Linked DNA regions of Homo sapiens: region 1 is linked to region 2. Evidence: fine-mapped expression QTL. A gene starts in region 2. The other region holds a variant in brackets. All regions are shown on one strand. Distances are between the middles of the regions. Region 1 overlaps NKAIN2 (sodium/potassium transporting ATPase interacting 2). Region 2 holds the start of NKAIN2 (sodium/potassium transporting ATPase interacting 2).

Region 1 (11,998 bases), 370 kb after region 2:
AGGGTTTTAGAAATATTTCTTATTAATTATAACTAATATCTTGTAAAATGAAGATTACTTTATTACTTCTTTAAGGCCCAAAATTTCTTAAGTGCTAAAGAATACTTTAGTGGTAATCTGTGTCTGTGGCTCTTATATTTTTGGTATTGGTGAAAAGCATTTATTGTGACTATAAAAATTTTAAACATTTTGAAATATGTGAATATGCCTTGAAATATATTAAGAAGCTTTCTTTAATAATAGTTTTCCCAAATTAGAAGTGCACTGTCCCTTGAGGAAAAATTGGAATCACTAATTATGGGCTTAATAAAATGTTGCTAATAGGCAGGAATGGTCAGCCCTGAATTAAAACTTCTACTAGTGAGAAAATATGAATGAATGTAATTCTACATTTTATTCAATTTCCTTTTTTGCTATATTTTCCCAATATACCAGTTTGTTTGAAAATGATGTGTTAGTAAAATATGTCCTCCAACTCTAACAATCAGTTTATGTATTTTTTTATTTTATTTTATTATTATTATACTTTAAGTTTTAGGGTACATGTGCACAATGTGCAGGTTAATTACATATATATACATGTGCCATGCTGGTGTGCTGCACCCATTAACTCGTCATTTAGCATTAGGTATATCTCCTAATGCTATCCCTCCCCCCTCCCCCTACCCCACCACAGTCCCCAGAGTGTGATGTTCCCCTCCCTGTGTCCATGTGTTCTCATTGTTCAATTCCCACCTATGAGTGAGAACATGTGGTGTTTGGTTTTTTGTCCTTGCGATAGTTTACTGAGAATGATGATTTCCAATTTCATCCATGTCCCTACAAAGGACATGAACTCATCATTTTTTATGGCTGCATAGTATTCCATGGTGTATATGTGCCACATTTTCTTAATCCAGTCTATCATTGTTGGACATTTGGGTTGGTTCCAAGTCTTTGCTATTGTGAATAGTGCCGCAATAAACATACGTGTGCATGTGTCTTTATAGCAGCATGATTTATAGTCCTTTGGGTATATACCCAGTAATGGGATGGCTGGGTCAAATGGTATTTCTAGTTCTAGATCCCTGAGGAATCGCCACACTGACTTCCACAATGGTTGAACTAGTTGACAGTCCCACCAACAGTGTAAAAGTGTTCCTATTTCTCCACATCCTCTCCAGCACCTGTTGTTTCCTGACTTTTTAATGATCGCCATTCTAACTGGTGTGAGATGGTATCTCATTGTGGTTTTGATTTGCATTTCTCTGATGGCCAGTGATGGTGAGCATTTTTTCATGTGTTTTTTGGCTGCATAAATGTCTTCTTTTGAGAAGTGTCTGTTCATTTCCTTCGCCCACTTGTTGATGGGGTTGTTTGTTTTTTTCTTGTAAATTGGTTGGAGTTCATTGTAGATTCTAGATATTAGCCCTTTGTCAGATGAGTAGGTTGCAAAAATTTTCTCCAATTTTGTAGGTTGCCTGTTCACTCTGATGGTAGTTTCTTTTGCTGTGCAGAAGCTCTTTAGTTTCATTAGATCCCATTTGTCAATTTTGTCTTTTGTTGCCATTGCTTTTGGTGTTTTAGACATGAAGTCCTTGCCCATGCCTATGTCCTGAATGGTAATGCCTAGGTTTTCTTCTAGGGTTTTTATGGTTTTAGGTCTAAGGTTTAAGTCTTTAATCCATCTTGAATTAATTTTTGTATAAGGTGTAAGGAAGGGATCCAGTTTCAGCTTTCTCCATATGGCTAGCCAGTTTTCCCAGCACCATTTATTAAATAGGGAATCCTTTCCCCATTGCTTGTTTTTGTCAGGTTTGTCAAAGATCAGATAGTTGTAGATATGCGGCGTTATTTCTGAGGGCTCTGTTCTGTTCCATTGATCTATATCTCTGTTTTGGTACCAGTACCATGCTGTTTTGGTTACTGTAGCCTTGTAGTATAGTTTGAAGTCAGGTAGCGTGATGCCTCCAGCTTTGTTCTTTTGGCTTAGGATTGACTTGGGGATGCGGGCTCTTTTTTGGTTCCATATGAACTTTAAAGTAGTTTTTTCCAATTCTGTGAAGAAAGTCATTGGTAGCTTGATGGGGATGGCATTGAATCTATAAATTACCTTGGGCAGTATGGCCATTTTCACGATATTGATTCTTCCTACCCATGAGCATGGAATGTTCTTCCATTTGTTTGTATCCTCTTTTATTTCCTTGAGCAGTGGTTTGTAGTTCTCCTTGAAGAGGTCCTTCATGTCCCTTGTAAGTTGGATTCCTAGGTATTTTATTCTCTTTGAAGCAATTGTGAATGGGAGTTCACTCATGATTTGGCTCTCTGTTTGTCTGTTATTGGTGTATAAGAATGCTTGTGATTTTTGTACATTGATTTTGTATCCTGAGACATTGCTGAAGTTGCTTATCAGCTTAAGGAGATTTTGGGCTGAGACAATGGGGTTTTTTAGATATACAATGATGTCATCTGCAAACAGGGACAATTTGACTTCCTCTTTTCCTAATTGAATACCCTTTATTTCCTTCTCCTGCCTGAATGCCCTGGCCAGAACTTCCAACACTATGTTGAATAGGAGTGGCGAGAGAGGGCATCCCTGTCTTGTGCCAGTTTTCAAAGGGAATGCTTCCAGTTTTTGCCCATTCAGTATGATATTGGCTGTGGTTTTGTCATAGATAGCTCTTATTATTTTGAGATATGTCCCATCAGTACCTAATTTATTGAGAGTTTTTAGCATGAAGGGTTGTTGAATTTTGTCAAAGGCCTTTTCTGCATCTATTGAGATAATCATGTGGTTTTTGTCTTTGGTTCTGTTTGTATGCTGGATTACATTTATTGATTTGTGTATATTGACTTCAGTGATGCATTATAGATTCAGTGATTTTTATGTACTTAGGTAGCCTCTTGAATTGAGCTCCTGAAACTTTGCAATGTAATGTTTATCAAAGTACATGTGACCATAGAGATATATTTCTAACCATTTCCTTCTCTTTTGAGAATCCAAAACCCATGTGGTACCCACATAAAAAACCAAGCATTTATTCTGCCTCAATGCCACATTATTTGTCATTACATTTGAATCATAGGTGAAGAGTTTGAAGCAAAATCAAATTAGTATCTGTCCTGGTTTATCATCTCTTTGCAAATTGGACATTTAATTTTTTTATAATAGTGCACAAGTTCATATTACATCATTGTCAGTTTGTATTAGTATTGCTATATATGCTGGCCATAAGTCTGTAAAATTTGACAAGTTAACTGAAGGACTAATCACCTGAAATGCATCTGACCAGTAAAGATACCATCAGAATGATCATACTTTAAGTTTCCAAAAATGATTTGGTGTTTCTGGGAATTTTAGCTACAACAGAATTTAATGATGGTTCAGAATTATATGATATTGTAGTATGGATACTCTTGTACATACACTGAATTTGAAAGAGACATTCTTGTCTATACATGGAATATTGAAATATTAAAATGACAGTTATCCATGGGTTATAATTTTTTCTTTTGTGAAAAATGCTAAATATTAATATAACAAAAGTTAAAGCCTGTTAATTTTGTGTGTGTGTGTGTGTGTGGTCTACACACTAAGAATGACATATCTAACATAAAACATTCTTTGAGTAATATGAATTTTAGAACCATTGCCTGTGTGTTGGCCAGTTCACACTTAATAAATATTTAGGTATTGTGAAATTAGCTCTAATACCAACATATTATCTTGAAAGGAGAATCAGTCATCTTAATGATAGTAACAGCCTCTTGTAAATTTTATTAAGTATATTAAGAACAATTCCTTTGGTTGAGGCAAAGTTTAACTTCCAAAATGATGTAAGGTGAATGATACTTCAGAGTACTATTCTTTTGCACTATTTACAGGTTACAGTGTCAAACAGAATTATTGGCATATTTTCATTTTAACAATCGGAATATTTGGAGGCCCATGGTTCTTTGTCAAATATTTGCGTATATTTTAGTAAAGCTAGTTAAAAAATTCACAAAACAAGTAAAATGCTCTTCTTGTATACTTTTGACATCAGTATTTCTCATGTTCAATATGTGCTTTAATATTGAATGTTCAGAATTGGATGTGTGTGTATATGTGCACAGACACATATATGTACATTTAAATTTTGATGTTTATTATCCAGTATAGCACTGTGCACCCAAAGATATATAACATTACTTAATGATAAATTTCTGTGTTTTTTTCTAGTATTATCTTGCTGATAATAAATATACATAGTCTCAAAAATTTATTTCTCTTAGATCTAAATAATATTCTTTACATTCTGAGAAATTTGCATTTGATAAAATTTGGATATTGAAAGAGGCTAATTCTGCTCTTTTCACAAGTTTATCTTTTTGCAATCAAAGTAGATAAAGATTATTGCTCATTAAGTATTAAAAATGCCAAGCAGTGGGATTTGCTACAGTTTCACATTGATGGCTGATCTAGAATTGCTACATTTTACAATCCATGGCACATATTTTAATATCTCTTAGTTCCTAAATATAGTTTCTCAAATTAAATTAATTTAGGCAAAAAGATAAGTTCACTGACTTACAGAAGTTAACTTAAGGAAATAATTAAGCACCTCACCAAGCAACCAGGCTTAAATTCTACTGAGACCCTCTCATTGGCCTGCCTTGCTCCTTTCCTTTCTGAGCCATGCTGATTCTTAGTGCGTATGTTTTTTTTCTCCATGCACTTTGAATGGAAAATCTTATCTCCATGCACTTAGGATGGAAATCTTCTTAGGTGGAAAATCTTACCTCTGTTTGCTTCCTGGTTTTACATTCTGCATCCTCACCATTGGGGTGGAACGGACTTTCACCCCAGACTCACTTATTCAGAAATCGCAGAGAAAGAGCCTCTTTGGTCCATTTTGGGTCAAATGCTCAGCCTTAAAATGGTCAGCTTGGGCCGAGGCCTAAGTACTGTAATTAAATAGATTTAGTTAGGGAACTTTGGGGTTTTTATTAAGAGTGTTTCCTTCCCAACAGTAGCCACATCATTTAGGGGCTGAAGTGAGGAAGGACTTCCTAGAAGAATGGGGATGCAAACCATTTTCTGAGTTCAGCCTTCTTTTCTTCTTGCTGAATCTCTATTCCTGTAAATCCTCACCAGGGATGCTTCCTTATTTCATGCAGATCTCAGCTCAAATATCACCTTTCCCTGCATTATTGTCTAATATTTTGTACTCCTCTTTGCACTCTCTCTTTTTCCACTGC[T/C]TTATTGTTCCTTCACAACATTGCTTGGTGTTATTTAAGTGTTCCCTTGTTTATTTTTCTACTACACTGGGAACAGTGTACTGAACAGTGAACTTGGCATATTGTACGTATTCCAGAGATATTTGTTGAATGAATATAAGGGAACACTATGCCATTTCCATAGATATTTTTTTCTATTTACCCTAACCTGAATTTCTCTCTGCTAAATAGAAAGTATGCAGGGAGAAGTATCTCTGATGTATGGCAAAAGAATGTCAAGACAAAATCATTAAATGTAATGGCTAGAGTTGGACAATGAAAGTGTGCTGTAACTCATTAGAGAACATTTCTCTGTATCATTTCTTCCCCATATAGTAACTGATTTTTTCTTAAATAAAGAGATAGTGGCTTCTTGGATTCCACAAAATCCTTTGATATTTTCTATAAATACAGTGAATTTGGCCTCAATGAAGCCACTTTTTATGTCCAATATATGCATTTAGAATACGAAAGTATAAATAGCAAAGATAGTAATATGTGTTTTAGTTCCGTGGATGTTCCTAATAAACATTCAGGTGATACCTAGGGTGTTTATATTTAGCTAAACTGACTAGATAATCCAGTCATATCTGTGGTCTCTTTCGGTAAACTGATAATTTTCTGACAAAATTTATCACATTTGACTCATTAGTTCTTTATAAGTTTTTTCCCCAATTCAAAGCTTACCTTTTCACTCTGGTAAAATGCTCCTTAAAGAAAATTTACCGTGATTTCTTTAGAATTTTTGTCACTATCTTTAAAAAACAAATTTTCATAATTGTGAAGGTTTTTTTTTAGAAAATTTCATTTGAGATGTGTGGGAAAGAGGTTAAAACAAATAAAGTGAAGACTAACACTCAACTCTCACTTTTCCACTAAATGTAAATTTTATCACAGTTTCTATACCCTCATCCTTGTCATTAGGTATTATGCTTTTTTGCAGCCATATTCTTAAGGAACTTTTTTTGTTTTGTTTTGTTTTGGGAGCTAAATTCTGTTGGCAGAAAGACAAAATTTTCCCGTGTTCTGCTCTCTAGCATATCTTTCTAATTTTAAAATTTTAGGACCTAGAGATTTTCATCTCTTCATTTTGACCATGGTAATTTGAAGTGAAACAGCAAGATTTGACATAAGAATAAAAGATATAAGTTAGAAAATTCATTTCTGCAGTTTATTCGGATCCATTCTGGAATAATTTTTCCTCCTATGATAGATTCTTAAAGCAATTAGAAAACCAAGATTTTGTGATATTACTAATCATAAAACAATGTTAAGTTTTCGTAAGAGAGGGCCGATTTGATTTTTTTTTTTTTTTTTTTTTTGAGACAGAGTCTTGCTCTGTTGCCCAGGCTGGAGTGCAGTGGTACCATCTCGGCTCACTGCAACGTCTGCCTCCCGGTTCAAGCAATTCTCCTGCCTCAGCCTCCCAAGTAACTGGGACTACAGGCACATGCTGCCACGCCCGGCTAATTTTTTTGTATTTTAGTAGAGATGGGGTTTCACCGTGTTGCCCAGGCTGGTCTCGAACTCCTGAGCTCAGGCAATCCGCCTGCCTTGGCCTCCCAAAGTGCTAGGATTACAGGCGTGAGCCACCGCGGCCGACTCTTTTTTTTTTTTGAGAGAGAGTCTCGCTCTGTCGCCCAGGATGGAGTACAATGGCATGATCTCCACTCACTTGCCTCAGCCTCCCAAGCAACTGGTACTACAGGCACATGCTGCCACGCCCAGCTAATTTTTTGTATTTTTAGTAGAGACGGGGTTTCACCGTGTTAGCCAGGGTGATCTCCATCTGGTGACCTCGTGATCCGTCCGCCTCGGCCTCCCAAAGTGCTGGGATTACAGGCGTGAGCCACTGTGCCCAGCCCCCAATTTTTTTAATGATAGTGAAGTTGAACAAGTTTTTTGCATTTTTGGAAACAGATTTGAATATTTTAACTTTTTAATTCTTCTTTGAATAATTTGCATGTTTTTAAAAAACTCTTTCATGGAATACATGACTGGCTTTTGAAGTAAATTTGTTATATCAAAACCAGTATTTTCTCAGGTGAAGTGGAATGGAATGAAATAGAATTGAATAGAACACTGGGATAGAGTAAGTAGAATGTCCTGGTTGCAATATATTCCATGAATTTTGAATTCTAATTCTAACTACTGCTGTTTGGTGGGAGTTCTCCTACGTAAGTTTCATTTTATTATGGAGTGTATGTACCATCTTGCTCATATCAAATATTCCTTTAAATTCTATAAACCTCAAAATTTCCCTCTGTTTAATACAGAATATTGACTGCAATGATATCAGATTTTAAAAATCTGTATATCATTCTTGTGGAAGGAAGTATATATTCTTGTGGAAGGAAGTAAAAAAGTATATATTCTTGTGGAAGGAAGTAAAAAAGTTCCAAAGCCTGTTAGAATCTGTATAAACTTATGGAATCATTACTTCTTTTTGTTTTACTACATTAAATTCACCTTAAATTCAGTCCAGGTTTTTACTTTGAGATATTTCATATCTGAAATGGCTACAGCATTCTGTTGCACTCATCTGCTGGAGCTCAAGCAACTTATAAACATCTTTACATTAATATTCAGAAATCAGTTTCTATCATTTAATATGTAGTGTGGGAATAGTTCACATATAGAGTTTGGCTGTATCTTTGATTCCTTATCCTGTACCACATGAGCAAGATTTCTTCTTCTACACATGCCTTTGGAATTGCCTCATATACACTCAAAGCTTTCCATTTAAGCAATTTAGTGACAATTGCATTAATTCAAATCATAGCTGATTTTACAACTGAAGTAGAATATGATTGGGGATTATCTGAAGTCTCCTCTAAAACTCTCTCAGTTTAAATTGATGGTAATCTACTCCTGAATAATGAAATATTTCAAATTGTCTAATTGCATGATATAAAATGCATATACAATTGTATTAAGAATAATGATAAAATGAGAATCTCTCTTGCTCTTATAAAAGCACCATGACTAGTTTTTACATATGAATTCAAAATGATTCGGTTGATTCTTAACATTTCATAACACCAACCTGTTCTACACATTCATTTTAGCATATATTACTTTTAGTACGTGATTGGGAGTTTTACTGGAAATGTTTCTGTCTTCCAGTCTCTAACAGCTTTAAGCTTATATTCTAATTTCAGTAATGAAGTGAGATACCTATTCCTACCTCAAAAACTTCCCTTTCACAAAGACTAAATTTCCTCAAAGATTGAGCCTTAAAGAAGCAACAAGAAAGTGCATAAAAAATGCAAAGCTGATTCTTTGCATAATATTAATAGGCCCTTTGAAGAAACTGTAGAGTGAAAAAGGGATGGTGGTATTATATCTTGCTAAAGCTGCTCCAAATCAAATTATTTCTAAAATTATACTTAAAAACTAAATTTGATACTGACTTTATGATACCTATATCAAATATTATTTTATCTTGTTTTCTCTTGAAAGTAAGGAGAAATTGAAATAATTTGAATATCCCTCTTCTTTGTTATATAATCATCATTTTTGAAAGTTTTTTCAGGTTTGTGCAATAGAGTAGAGCAAGCAATATTAGATTGATACTTAGTGGATGGTTCTTATTCCTTATTTCTTCAAACTTCTCTTCAGAGTAAAGTTTTGATAATTGATAATTTTAATCATTGATTTCTAGGGTGATAGCTATTATTTTGGAAAATAAAGGATTAAAATTTTCATGCCGAAGGATACTGTTTACATTCATGTATAGCATGCAATAGGGATTTTGTTTATCTGGCCATTTTGAGGCAAGAAGGGATATTATGTTGAAGTATTCATTTCTTATTTTTAAAATCTGATATCATTGCAGTCAATATTCTGTATTAAACAGAGGGAAATTGTGAGGTTTATAGAATTTAAAGGAATATTTGATATGAGCGAGGTGGTACATACACTCCATAATAAAATGAAACTTACTTAAGAGAACTCCCACCAAACAGCAGTAGTTAGAATTCAAAATTCATGGAATGCCACAGAATCCTGAATTTGGAAGAAAATTCAGAAGTTGTTCATTCAAACTTCACACTAAAAGCACCTTTCAACTTTACCTGTTAATCATTCTAAACCAAACTTCCTCAAGTGTCTCCTTAAATAAAAGGCACACTTCTGGATTTAAGGAAAACAAAGATAAAAAGGTCACAATCTCTACCTTGCAGAAATTAGTTAGGGCAGCCTAAGTACAATGAAGAAAAACTCATAATTTTAGTAATTTAGCACAATAAAAGCTTATTTCTTGTTAAATAGATACAGGGGTAGTACTCTGTTCTACAGAGTTGTTCTGGGATTCAGCCTCCTTACCCTGTCCAACTCCACCCTTTTCTAATTCCTAGCACTCCTATTCATTCAACTATTCTTTCAACTAGGGAATGGTCAAAGAGAGTGAGGGCAGGATTGCATCAAGAGATTATTAAGGGTCAGGCCTAAAAGAAGGCACCACTTCTACTCATATTTCATTGGCCAGAATGTAGTCATATGACCAAACCAACTAATGAAAGAAAAGCAGGGAAATGTAGGCAACCTTGGTGTCCAGGAGGAAGGAAAAAATAGTTTAGTGACACATTGGTCAGTCCCTTTGAAAAGGTCTTTGCAGTTGACTTATATATCTCTGAAAGATTGTCCCTCTAGCTCCTTTTTGACCACTTAAATGTCACCACTTTAGTAAAATGTATATGTAAATTTGAAATTATCTGAGGACTTTAATAAAAATTTTAATTCACAGAATGATTCTCCTTTTACTTTGTGAATACCTGTATCTACCTTATTAAAATAAGGCCATTTTCAGTTGTAATAATAAATAGAAAGTGTGTTTTTAAGCACCATTGTAACTTGGGTTATCAAAAGGTGGGTGCTGAATGTTATTAATACTATTGATTTTCTTTGCACTTTACTTCTGTTAAGAAGCAGGAATCATGTGGCTCTCATTGCATAGACAGCGTGAAGTGCTTGTAGAAACTTGCAGTTCACCCTGAGTGACAGATCTACACTCACACAGACTGCATACTAGGCTGCACATCTGTATGAAGGCATTACTATTTGTAGGGAAAAAAAGAACAATATTATGCTTCAGGCCAGGAAAGTCAAATAGCTGAAGTCAATATTAAGATAGTTAGGATAATATTTCAGAAAAGATTTGCCTGCTTCACTTGGCGTAAATTTAAATAGTCAAACTTCCTAAACATTTAAAAGTTAAAACAAGGGCTTAAAATATATGATGTGAGTTTCACATAATGTCTACACTGCCTCTGCCTGTACCTAATGGGAAAATGAAAATCACTTACATGTTAAAGTCTGATTGGTTTACAAATTTCAATGACTACCCACTTAGTAGATACATCTATTGTTTTTATATCATTATTTTTATACAATGGGAAGTTACTAATATAATTTTTCCCATATCCCAACCTTTTACTCTTCCCCTTCTGTTTACAGGATGAACCCCAAAGTCTTTAGTTTATCAATTCAGATTTTTTTTAAATGTAGCCTCACTGGGTTTTCAACATTATTTTCCAATCTACGATTTGCTAAATAAACTTGTTGCTCCACCAAAACTGTTCTCTCCAAAGTTTGTGAATGTACATCTCTCTCTTGCCCTTTATTTCTCTCTTTCTCACTCTTTATTTCATCACATGTGTAGATTTATGTTATTGTAATCTGCTTTTTACATTTTTTTAAGTACTGACACTACTGTTCCATGCTGCCTCTCATGAGAAATTTTCTAGTTTATGCAGACTTACCTCAGAGATATTGTAGTTTAGGCTCCAGACTATCACAATAAAGGGAATATTGCAATGAAGTGAGTCACACAAATCTTTTGGTTTTCCAGTACATATAAGGGTTATACTATACTGTAGTCTATTAATTATGCAATAGCATTATGTCTAAAAAAGTGCATACTTTAAAATACTTTATTGTAAAAAAGATGCTGACAGAGACACAAAGTGAGCACATGCTGTTGGAAAATGGCTCTGATAAGCTTTCTCAACTCATGGTTACTACAGACCTTCGATTTGTAAAAAAATGCATTATCTGTGAAGTATGATTTAAAAAAGTATGCCCATAGTTTGGTTCCAGGACTAGCTAGTCTCTAATAACTAGCTCTACTGGTTATATTTTGAATTCTTTGGGATTTTCTATATACAAGATCATGTCTTCTAATAAAAGAGATTGTTTTATTTTGCCTTTCCAAATTGCTTTCTCTTGCCCAATTGCTTTGGCTAAAACTTCCAGTACGATGTTGAATGACAGTGGTGAAAATAGACATCCATTATGATCCTAATCTTAGGGGATAAACATGTAATGTTTATAAACAGTGTTGTTAACTGAAGCATTTTTTCTTCCTTATTCTAGATTTATTAAAAATAAATAGTAGATTTATAGAAGGCAAGGATAAACATACAGATTCCTGCCATGTTAATATGTAATTTAACAACAAAATTATATGTCTGTGCTGCTAGATATGATAGAATAAAAATGATATTGCATTACTAATTTAACTGGAATCTATTTTATTATTAGTGAGGTTGAATATCTTTTATGTTTCTTGTGTGTATTCTTTTGTTAACATCTCATACATTTTCCTATTTTTATTTTCATGTTTGTCTTTTAATATGCAAGTTTTTATATTGACTATTAACTTTTACCCATCTTATGTCTTGCAAAAGTCTTTCCTAGTATGACTTTTTTAAAAATGCCTTTCCATATAGTTTTAAAATTCTGTGGCATAAAATTTTTT
Region 2 (11,998 bases):
CTCCAGAAGGCTGTGTATGCTCAGAAGCAGTGCCCGCTATATGGTACTGTTTCTCCCATAGCCAGGATTCATGGGTCCAGGATTCAATGGGTGGAAGTGGAAGTAGCACTAACAAAATGTTTGCTTCCTGTTCCTACAACATTACATTCTGCTGGCCTAGAGGTCTTAGTTCCAGAAGGAGGAATGCTGCCACCAGGAGACCCAATGATTCCATTAAGCTGAAAGTTAAAATTCCCATGTAGACACTTTGGGCTCTTCCTACTTTTAAGTCAATACGCTAAGAAGGGAGTTACAGTGTTAGCTGGGGTGACTGACCTGGACTGTCAAGAAGAAATCAGTCTACTACTCCACCACGAAGGTAAGGAAGAGTATGCATGAAATACAGGAGATCCATTAGAGTGTCTCTTAGTATTACCATGCCCTGTGATTAAGGTCAATGGAAAGTACAACAGCCCAATCCAAACAGGACTACGAATGACCAGACCCTTCAGGAATGAAGGTTTGCATCACTCTACCAGGAAAAAAAAACAACACACACACATACACACACACACACTCACACACACACCCTGCTAAGGTGCTTGCTGAAGGCAAAGGGAATACAGAATGGATAGTAGAAGAAGGCAGTCATCAATACCAGCTATGACCAGGTGACCTGCTGCAGCTATGGGGACTGTAATTGTCATGAGTTATTTCCTCCTTCTTTTGTTAAAAATATGTTTGTGCTTGTATACACTTGTACTAAGAAAATATCTTCATTTTATTTCCTTTCTCCTTTCCCATGTGACATAAGAGTTTTTGACTTCACATGAGCATTTAAGTGTTGTTAACTTTATGTAATAGTGTTCGGGTTGGGGATTGGTGGGTTTCCGTTTGTATGAAAGATAGCTGTATTATGTTAGGCATAATTATGACCTTATTACTGTCATTATTTGAAGATTATGTATGATATCAGGAAATGCATATGGGTTCAAGTTGACAAAGGTAGACTTGTGATGGTTAATACTGAGTGTCAACTTGATTGGATCTAAGGATACAAAGTATTGATCCTGGGTGTGTCTGTGAGGGTGTTGCCAAAGGAGATTAACATTTCAGTCAGCGGGTTGGGAAAGGCAGACTCACCCTTAATCTGGGTAGACACAATCTAATCATCTGCCAGCTTGGCTAGAATATAAGCAGGCAGAAAAATGCGAAAAGTGAGACTGACCTAGCCTCCCAGACTGCATCTCTCTCCCATGCTGGATGCTCCCTGCCCTTGAATATCAGACTCCAAGTTCTTCATTGTTGGAACTCGGACTGGCTCTCCTTGCTCCTCAGCTTGCAGACAGCCTATTGTGGGACCCTGTGATCCTGTGAGTTAGTACTTAATAAACTCCCATATATATATATATATATATATATATATATATATATATATATATGGCATATATATAAAACATATATATATAAAACTCCCATATATATATAAATATATATATATTCCATTAGTTCTGTCTCTTTAGAGAGCCCTAATACAGCATTGCTCTAAAAGTTTAACTTAGTTGATGCTTACTAAATTCTCCCAAAAACTCTATATGTGCATTATTACCCCTCCCATTTTATAAATAAGAAAACCAAAGCACAAAGAGCTAAGCAATTTACCTAAGACTACATAGTTGATAAATGGCAGAGCTTGGATTATGAAACTCAATGTCTGGCTGCAGAGTCCATGAACTTAATAGTTAATAACCTGGATACATGTTTTTGGTCTATTGTCAAGTGAAAAAAAGCAGGTTAAAAGATGTTGTGCATGATATCACCCTATTTTTGTTAGAAAATGGTTTGTATAAAAATGACATCAATTATCTCTGGATGGAAGAATTGGTGGCTATTTTCATCTTATATGCCATTAACATTTAAAATATACTATCATTTTCCTAATCATTATCCAAACAAGAAAAAAATCCATGTTAATATAAAATATATAATGTGTACAATGAGTCAAATAGGTTGGTTTTGTGATTGTAAAGATGTGATTATTATGCATCCTATGCCTGTATCGAAATGTCTCCTGTACCCCATAAATATATACATCTACTATGTACCCACAAAAATCTTCAAGAGAACTAATTTTTGCTTTCATGATTTAAAATAATGAATGGAGGCAATAAAACTCAGTGAAATTGTTTAGCAGAGTTGCAACGCCAAGCTTGAGCTTTTGGTGTAGCTGAAGTGATTGAGTGTTAGCAGTCTGTAACCCGGTTCACTCAGTGGCTGTGTGCCTACTGCATTGCATGAGTTGTTCTGAGAGATAAATGAGATAATAGATCTGAAACAACCTTGAAAACTACTTTAAAACAGTACGGGAAGGTGAGGCAGATGGAGGTGTGGAATGTGCAGCACATTTTCCCCATAGAAACAAGGCAATTCACAATACTTATGTCACCATATTAGTCAACAAAAGGTCTAACACCTTATATAGCAAAACAGTTTATGACCTTATTTCTAAGTGAAAATGCAATCAACATTCAAATTGGAGACATCTCTCTCCTTCACAAACGTCTGTGGAACTGTTGGGATTCTCTTTTTAGTCTCTTCTACTAAGACACTCAGTTCCAGGAATAATAGAAAACAGAATAGGAAGTGCATAGCCACATTAAGTTATAGAATTGCATCTATAACTAGGGTGCCCTTTCATAAGTCAGGCATTGCCTATACTGTATGTAAAGGATGTGATGCCAATTTAGAGATAAAATATGTGTGATTATTCTTCTAAATATTTTTGTCATCACTTTCGTATGGAATTCTAAAAGAATGACAGGGAAGTATATTGAAATAAAGGAGTGTGGTACAGTAGTTCGAAAAGCGAATTTTGGTGTCTTATAATCATGCCCTTCAAATTCTAATTCTGCCGCCAAGAACACGTGCACCCGTGATAAAAATATTTGATTTCTCTCTGAGTTTGTATATCTTTAGAATGTGCATTGTATCAACTCATGTGTTTCCTGTGAGGAATGAATGAGACGATGTAGGTTTAGTACATAAGGCAGTAGTTGCACATAGTGAAGTCTCAACATTGTTTGTAGTTCACACTTCTGAGAACACTGTGCCAATGACGTCAGATGAGGTATAAAAGCCCCTGGAGACTGCCTTAGGTTGGGATTCTCAAGAGGCAGGCTCTGACACAAGGATTTGAGTGGTTTATTTCAGAGGTGATCCCAGGAAGCAGTGGTATGAAAGCAGGGAGATGAGGCATGGAAGGGAAGGAAGCCAATTCAGAGCGCATGAATGAGCCAGTTACTACTGTGGACACCTAGGGCTCAATCTCGGTGGGGACCTTAATGGTGTAGACTAGAACATGTCTGACGGTTTCCCATATGAGGATTGAAGAAGCTGGGGTATTTATCCTCCAATTCCCATCCATTATTGCGTGAGGGTAGCTCTTAGGGCTGGAACCTTATTGTTCAGCCAAGCACCTCCAATGGCTAGAAAACAGACTGTCCCAAGTGATTACAAAAACGCAAGCATGGACTGAAAGGGCACAGTCCAAGAACTATGGTGGGGCACTGCTGGAGTCAGCTACAGATAGCATTCTGCTTTCCTATACAACCTAAAGATTACTCAGGCTATTGCTGGTTGCAGGGAAACCTCTGCAGGATTACGGAGGGATCCATATAAATGTGTTGTTCCTATGATTAATTTGAGGAGGTAATAGAATGCTTTTGACAGTATGGCAGCAGCTTCTTCAACAGTCAATTAACTTACAGCTTTCTGTTTGGCAATGCAAAATACCCATAGCCCTAGCAGGTACAGGACAGCTAACGTGTATAAAGACAGAAGAGCAACTAAGAGAAACATTTTCCACTAGATAACTGGCTTCAGTTTTACCAAAGGTTGTGGAACTATTACCTTCCAGGCTTTGCAGTGCCTAAGAGCACATATTGGGCTCTTGGGAATTTTATTAAACATTGAAAGACACTTTTCAGAAGAAAAGCCCCTTTACAAATGGGTCGATTAAAACCAGACATTCTCATTATAGCAATAAAATATCTGTGCTCCATAAATTTAACAAAGTTAATCCCTTTTTGGCTCCCTAGGACTGACGAAACGTTTCTGAAAATTCAGTGCCAGGCTCTGGAGAATAGTCTCTCTGCCCTATTCAATTTATTTGTATTTAGTCATTCTGATACGTCATAATGTTTATTCAAAGGAAGCAATCATTCGGGATCCTTATTTGTGGTTCCCAGCATAACTTTATCCTGTATAAATGCCATTTTTCTCAGTAGGCGCCAAGTTCCAGTTGCTACAGAGAGCTCTCTGCTTGATGTGGCTTCGTCATCTTAATCTCTTAAGAAGGGTGCTAGGGAGCTGTTTGCTATTTAGCTCCCTAAACCATCCTCTTATCAATCGCGACACTTCACCCCAATGAGTCAGTTCCTCAGTGGATCTCAACAAATAATCTTCACTTCCTGGAAAAGTTAGGATTGCTTTCCTTAGCTGCCAGGGCTAAAAAGGAAACTTGGTCCTAAATATCCACGCCCCAGGGGCAGCCACTTGGGCCAGCATGTTGCGCCCTTCAGCTTTCCGCCCGCAGGTGGCAGCAGCGGGCTCCGAAGCCTGTCTCTGCAGGTAGCAGCCGCTTCACAGCTTTCAGGCCGGTGCTCAGCGGAGGCTGGTGCATCTCCACTAGGAATCCACACCCAGCTGGGACTGCTGTGAAGCTGAAGTAACTGAGTATTAAACTAGTCTCCGACTCTTTAGTATTTTAAGTGAAAACAAACAACAGTTTGAAGCAGCAACAGCAACTCATTGCATCCCTATTCCCTCCGGTTGCTAATTTTTCCCAACTCCAGCAGCAACTCGGTCCCCTTCCCCAAGCAGGGTCGGCTCCGTAGCTCTCCGCGCTCCGACCCTTCAGATCCTCGGGAGCCCAGGGGAGCCAGGTGCTGGGCGGTGCGTCCGGTGCCGCCGCGCCCCTTCTCGCCACCTCTGGCCTCTCCGCCACTCGGGCTTTCCGGCCGCTCTGGATGCCTCGGTTGCACCCCTGTTCCATGACCCCAGCTTCCTTCCCTAACCCTCCTCTTGGTCCCTTCTCCCCCGAGCGCGCGCGCACACACACACTCGGTTCGCTCCCGCGGAGTGGCTCTGGGAGCACGACCGACTTCAGCTCAGCAAACCGCGGTCATGCCGCCCAGACTCCTCGCCCCGAGGCCCCGGTCCCCGCCGCCGCCGCTTTCGCGCCGCTCCTTTCCGCCTAGACACCGCCGCCTGCGGCCGCCTGGGCGGCAGCCCCTGCGGTCCTCAAAGTTGGCCCCCTGGGAGGGGGCGGCAGGGAGCAGGATGAAGGATTTGTTGTAGGAGGAGGATTCACACATCTGGGCGAAGGGAGGGGCAGCGCCGCTGCTGGGACGCGGCGCGGACCCGCATCATTGCGCGCAGCAGCCGCTGCAGCAGCCGCCGGGGACCGCGGAGCCGGGACGCCCCCGCTCGGCCCGCGCCCCGCTCCCCGCCCCACCCCCGCCCGCCGGGCCCAGCAACGCAGGGTGCCTAGGAGCCGCGGGCTGCGCAGGGAGGCGGGCAGCGGCCCTCGCGCGCTTCTGCCGCCCCCGGAGCCGGCGCGCGGCGAGCGCAGGGCGAGCGCGCGTCGGGCGGCGGCCGCGCTGGGGGGCGTGAGGCGAGCGGCGCGGAGAGCGGCAGGGGCGAAACTTCGCGGGCCAGATGCCCGAGGGCGCGGCGGCGCTGCCAGGCTGCCGCTGCTGCCCCTGCGGGCCCCGAGCGCGCCTCCGCAGGCGGCACTGCCCGCGGCGCGGCGTGTGCACCGAGCGAGTGAAGGTATGTGTGGCGGGCGCGGCTGGAGCTGCCGCCGCCGCCGCCGCCGCGCCAGCAGGTCCTAATGCCTGTCACTTCCCAGGACGCTGGCAGCAGCAGCAGCCCGGAGCCCCCGAGCCCTCGGCAGGTTTGCGTGTCCTTCCCCGCGATCTGATTGGATAAAGTGGGGGCTCGACGGTGGCCGACGTGGGACAGTCTGGCTGTGGCAGGGGTCTCGGAAACCATGGGTTATTGCAGTGGCAGGTGCACGCTTATCTTTATCTGTGGCATGCAACTGGTAAGTGACACTTGGGTCCCCTTATTCTGTAATGTGTCTTTGAGATAGTGGGCAGGGGAGTGCAGCAAAGGGTCTGCCATTGACTAGAATGGACGAAAAAGATAAAAGAGAAGGTGACAGATATATTGCCTATATTGAAGATGATTTCAGGGAGACGCACTCTGGGGTACAGGAGAGGTGAGCCTTTCCGTTCCCACCTATTTCTGTCCCTTTTAAGACAGTTTGGCAGGTGCGGGTTAAACTTGTCTTTAATTTCTTTAGGAAAAGCAAGATGTAGCTCTTGTTCTTTATGCTTTGCATTCCTATTCATGTAACAACGTGATTGTCACCTACAATTTACCGTACAGGTTGTTAAACAGAGGAATACGGAATTTTGGACTTTTCTTCTCTATACTAATTTTGCAGTATCTTTGTTTCTTCATAGACATGTTTTTTTTCTTTTTTTAAGGAAAATGTTGTCTTTAAGTATAATGCTCTAAAAAAACCACTGTTTAGGGCACATGGTATCCTTACAACAGTCTAATTTAGACTGTTTGAGTTTTAGCCACATTGAGTTTTTAAAGTATGCAGATTGAACAAAAATACTTAGGTGAACTCAGCAACACCATTGTCATAGACGGAACCAGTAACCTTTAAATCACAATTAACACAGACAATTCCAAGAAAAACTATTCTGTCTTACATTATGCATATTATTGCTCCTGAAATAGATACTGTTGTCTGATCCTATAGGATGGAGAATTCTATGTACTTTTTGAGGAATGTTGTACAGTTGCAAAGGGGCAAGGAACCAATAATGGAAAACGTCATGTCTCTGAATTTCAATTCCCTAAGGGCAATGGAAGGAGGGTCTGAGTAGAGAGTTGAGAGGTGAAAAATACACCACTCTAAGTGGTTAATTTGAGGTAGGAGCTACTTGCTCACACTTGTCATTAAATATATTTCCTTAGAAAGTATAAATTAACTGGAATAGTCATGTCCGTTTTCAACAACTGTTTCATAAAGGTTGAAGTGACTACAAGGCAGAAGATGTTTAAGTGTCCAATCAGTAAAGTGTTCAAAAGAGCAAGGATTTGCCATTGAAACTGGCAGAGGAATTCCTTAAGTGTTCTTGTTTATCAGTTGTCGTGAAGCCCATGAGTGTTAGTTATTGCTGCTTTGTTTAATATTTAGCTGAAACAGTGCTTTTTGTTGTGTGTTGTCTTAGGATGTTTTTCTTTCCCCTGAAAGTTATCTGATGGTGTCTATTTTGATCTGTGATTTATGCGCTTATGCACTTGGTTGTAAGACAAAGATGGAACTATAAATGTAATTTTCAGAATGTGGTAGTTTCTCAATGATGTGTAAACCAGTTTATTTTTCTGTACCACAGATTCATATAAGTTTTGCAATGAAGGATTTTTACTCTTAATAATAAAGCTAACCAAAACAATGAGGGAGTTTACTTTGTTAAACAACCCATTAGGCTAAGTCTGCCAAACTGTATAAAGGTTTTCAAAACATTCTTATTTTTATATATTATTCAGAAAAAGAATACATTTGCTGATTCACTGTGTGAAAGCATAAAAATGTGAGAATGAGTGGGTGTGTAGATCATTCTTATGCTCTTTTCGATTTAAAATTTGAAAAATGTGATTTAACTTCTAATCATGTAATATAATAGGGCTTTCTTATGGCAAATGTATGCACTAGGTCTGTATGACATTTTGTGTGATGAATACAAACTCCTCAAGAACTTAATTTTAGAAAAACATAAATATACCAGTAGGGAAGCTATCTATTCAAAGTAGAATGATAAAGCTAAAGGTTCCTTTGTGTTTTTATGTGCTCACATATGTGTGTATGTACATATGCTCTTGAGTACATGCATGCATCCATACATACAATGGTGTCTTGGAGAGTTGCACCATCACTTATGAAACAGAAATTCTGAATTATAATTAAGTTCTCTAACAGAATAGACGTAGCTGTAATACAGAAGAGCACAATCTAAGTAAGTGTACATTGGAATCCTAAGGAGTTTTTATATTATATGAGAATCATGTGATTTTTCCCATTCAGACTTTATGTGCCACCAGGCTAATATAATTAGCAGCCATGTTAACGCAGATGCAGAACAAAAAACAAAGGACAAAGAAAATGCAATTGTTTTGATAGGGTGAAATGATCACACCTCAAAGGACCTCAGAGATTCTTGGTAATTGTTGCTTTTTGGAAATACGGTATTTGATTTTAAATAAAATAATTCTTTTGCAAATTAATAGTTGCAAAGCCCTGCACTAAAAAATAGGTGGGTGTGTATGTTTTCCTTTTGCTCTCAATAGATTTTTAAAAACTTTTTATGTCTTTGCGCTATTATGAGTAGATTGTTTTACAAATAAACCAGGTTTCTAGACTAAGTTATGACTCATGTACCATTGACTGAAATAAAAGTTAACCCAGTTTTGTTTACTTCTCAAGTGTTTAGTATGTGTTCTTGTAACATTTGGGCATCTTTTTTTTGGTAACTGTACAGGAAAAAAGGCCAAAGAGACTCTAAGTTAGAAACTTTATTCAGTTGCTTTATTATGTGACTTGATTAAGGTTCTGGAAACATTAATCTCCAGTCCTCGGAGCAAAGTATTTGTATTTTAAATAAATTTAAGGGAATATTTACATCTGTACCAATTTGCAGCTAATCTTAGGAGAGGATGAGGTGGCTTTTGGTATTGTGGATATGGTGATCTCATTTATTAAGTTATTATCAGACCAGACACGGTGTTTTGACCATTTAACAATTGAGGGACAGAGGCAGATTCTTCAGAGACATTTACCTGTCAGAATTCTATATCTGTGCTTTAAATTAGTTAAATATACATTTAATTTAATGTTTGGCAGACTACAAGTATTGATAAACATATACTCTTCTCAAAAATCAGGAGATCCGTTTATAAAACAAGAAACTAGAATTCCATACCATAGAGATTCATACAAAACTTCCATTTTATGAAAAACTGTTTCCATATATATCATAAATTAAAATCTTTGAGTTGTATGGTTATGCCAACTTCAGATTTTAGGGTGATTCCTACGTAAAGGAGTATGATCTCTGGAAACAGATTTATTCCATGTGCAGAATCCAGAGCTTAAGCTCATAATCTCAAGAAGGTAATTTTCTTTTTATCATTGCTGTCCTTAATACTCAGAAACTGAAGATTTCAGATAGTAACAAAAATCATCACTGCATTTGCAATGGTGGATGTAGTGGTATAGGACAAGAAGTTTTTAACTTCTTATTTACTATTTGTAACTTTCAACTTGTGAAAGTTTTGGCATGTTTTCCCCAATGTTTGATTGAATCAGAGTTCTTTTATAAATGTGGAAAAAATTACTCTGATATCTCTCAGTGTGAAAAAATACGTTAAAATATGAAAGAATATAACTTAATTTAGACTGAAAGGACAGATTTGTTTTCAAGTAAGGAAACTCAAAATCCCCTATTTTGTACTTTAGACTTCTGGGTGGCACAAAACATGTCATAAACTATTGAAAGAAAGTTTAGATTTACACTCCACAGAATAACACTTGAAAAATGCCACTATTGCCATGGGCTGTATGAAATATTGTTAACTTGGAGCAGGTGCAACTAACAATTAGGTTAGTACACATTGTGTGTGCAGCTGTGTGAAGGAGTACATTTGAAACTTAATTAAGAATGATCAGTTACTTTCTATCACAGGATTGCTAACCATTTTCAAAGGTACATATTTTTTTTCCTTAAGATGTTGTGAGTGTAGACTAAATTAAAAACAATTTTATTATAATTATGGAATATTTCAGTGATCATGATTTTATGCAGTGTTCATAATCATGTGCTATTTTATTACTTTTTAGAAAATAAAGCGTTGCTGTGAAGTAGCTTGAAAAGTGCAGGTAGAATCTTATGATATTCCTGGTATACTTCTGACAAGTTTGACGGTTTTTCAGAAGTTTATAACTTTATCTGCCACAAAACTTCCTGGCTCAGAGAATTTTAACTTTTTAGGATTCAGATGCCATTGATGATAAAATCTTGAAGTTGTTAACCAAACTTACTCATGAAGAAGACTGAAAATCCCCATACAATACTTTAGAAACTTATCATGTAAAAATATGTTGAGTTTGCTAAGTTGTAAAATGATAACTTTCTTCTTTTTAAATGTTTTCTATTTATGCATCCTGAATATTGTTGCACATGGTTTTGTTTTTAATTTATTCTCACTGTAATTCAGCACTACTCTTCTCTGCCTTATATATACCAGGAGATACCTAGAAACTTCTTCCAGTGTCCAACTCTTCTTTCTTCGTTCACAAAGCAGGTAGCGACTTATTTTCTTGAATACAGCTAAAGTTTCAAAAAGTCAACCCATGTGGAGCTGTTCTCCTGCTTTCTCAAATAAAGGCTTGGATGGGCAGCATTTTTTCTGCAGAGTGCCAGAGTCATCTCTGGCATGGGGCCCGTATGTGGGTAATGACCCAGAAATGCAAATGTGCTTTGCTACCTCCTTTCCCTCTGATGCTGCTTTACTTTGAGGTCAGATTCTCTACTTGCCCAGTCAGGAATTTCAGAGTGGAAGTCAGGGATTCCTTAAAATAGGAAGTCTTTATTTTTTGTTTTTTATTTTTAATATGTGTGTGCTTGAGAGAAATAAAATCTGAGAGACAGAAACATATTTTAACATTTCTATGTTGATCCTGGAAATATAAATACAAAAGTTAATGGCACCAATTGCATTAAATATTCGTATATACAGATAATGCCTACAATTCCAAAGGTTGTATTTCAGTTATGTTATTTGGTAGAATTTCAAACAGTGCAGTATACTTTTTTCATAAGCAGTTTTGAAACTAATATTGCTATTAATGGAAATTACCCTATTTCCAATAACATACAAATGTCAGAAATGAAACACACACATAGGAAAAATATTTGTTTCCCATTTTTTTTCTGATATAATGAACTCTTCTGATTTTTGTTATTTTTTTCCCCTCATGGAAACTTGATTGTTGTTTATTATCAATATAATAAAATACATAAGCCATCAAGATACAATGTATGTAGGGCTACCTTTTTTCATACAATGATAGAATAAGTACTCTATTTATTCCTAATTTCTATAGGATGGAAATAAAATTATATGAAGCATTTGTTCTTACCATTCCCAAGAGATTAAAGCACATTTAAAAATTATGAAGGAACAAGATAAACTTCTATATCATTTTCTTTCTCCAGGTTATGGTAGAAATGAAGTTTATAACTTGGTTTTCTCCTCTTTTAGTATTTCAGGAGTTCATATTTTGTAATACTGCTGTGCACATGTGCGCACGTAATAAATTTGTTACGCTTTTTCTTTTGTTAAAAAATACTTCAGTTGTGTTTAGATATAAAATGCTTAATATATAAAGAAATTACTAGCTTCATCTTCCTGAAATAAGTATTTTTCTTTTTCTTTCCTTGAATTATAAAACAGGCAGTGGGTCTAGCTTATAGGAATATTCTAAGATTTAATCTTATGCAGGTATAGACTCTTTTTGTTTTTCCAACCTGAAATAAGAATAAGGTGACTTCAAAAGCTTATGATTTTTACCCTTTCAGCTAGTTGTGGATCACATGCTAACTTGATCCCTGTAAAAACTCCTTGAAATGCTACATATAAACTGATTTTTAAGTGCATTTTGAAATAAATTTTTTCATTTCATACATTTTTAAATAATTTGTTATGCATTTAAAAATCTAGTTTTATAAAATAATAATGAAAACTATTATTTATTGGAAGCTTGTTCTTGGCTAAATATGTTTTTTTTTCCCCCCACTGAATCCTCTCTGGTAATCCTATGAGGCAGGTAATAGATATTAATATCCTCACTTTACCAGGGAGGAGATGGAGGCCTTGA

Evidence for each region.
Region 1: its variant is fine-mapped to the expression of NKAIN2 in aorta (GTEx, PIP above 0.99).

The regions. Positions count from the first base shown.
Region 1 is chr6:124,165,010-124,177,007 of GRCh38, forward strand. The region is part of intron 1 of NKAIN2 (sodium/potassium transporting ATPase interacting 2); the gene reads left to right. Among named protein-coding and RNA genes, the nearest start is that of NKAIN2, 370 kb to the left of the region's middle. The variant T/C (reference allele first, on the strand shown) is at 5,221.
Region 2 is chr6:123,798,170-123,810,167 of GRCh38, forward strand. NKAIN2 (sodium/potassium transporting ATPase interacting 2) reads left to right here and starts at 5,696. Exons shown (of 7, transcript NM_001040214.3): 1 at 5,696-6,085. The coding sequence starts at 6,032. RefSeq lists an enhancer at 4,452-4,501.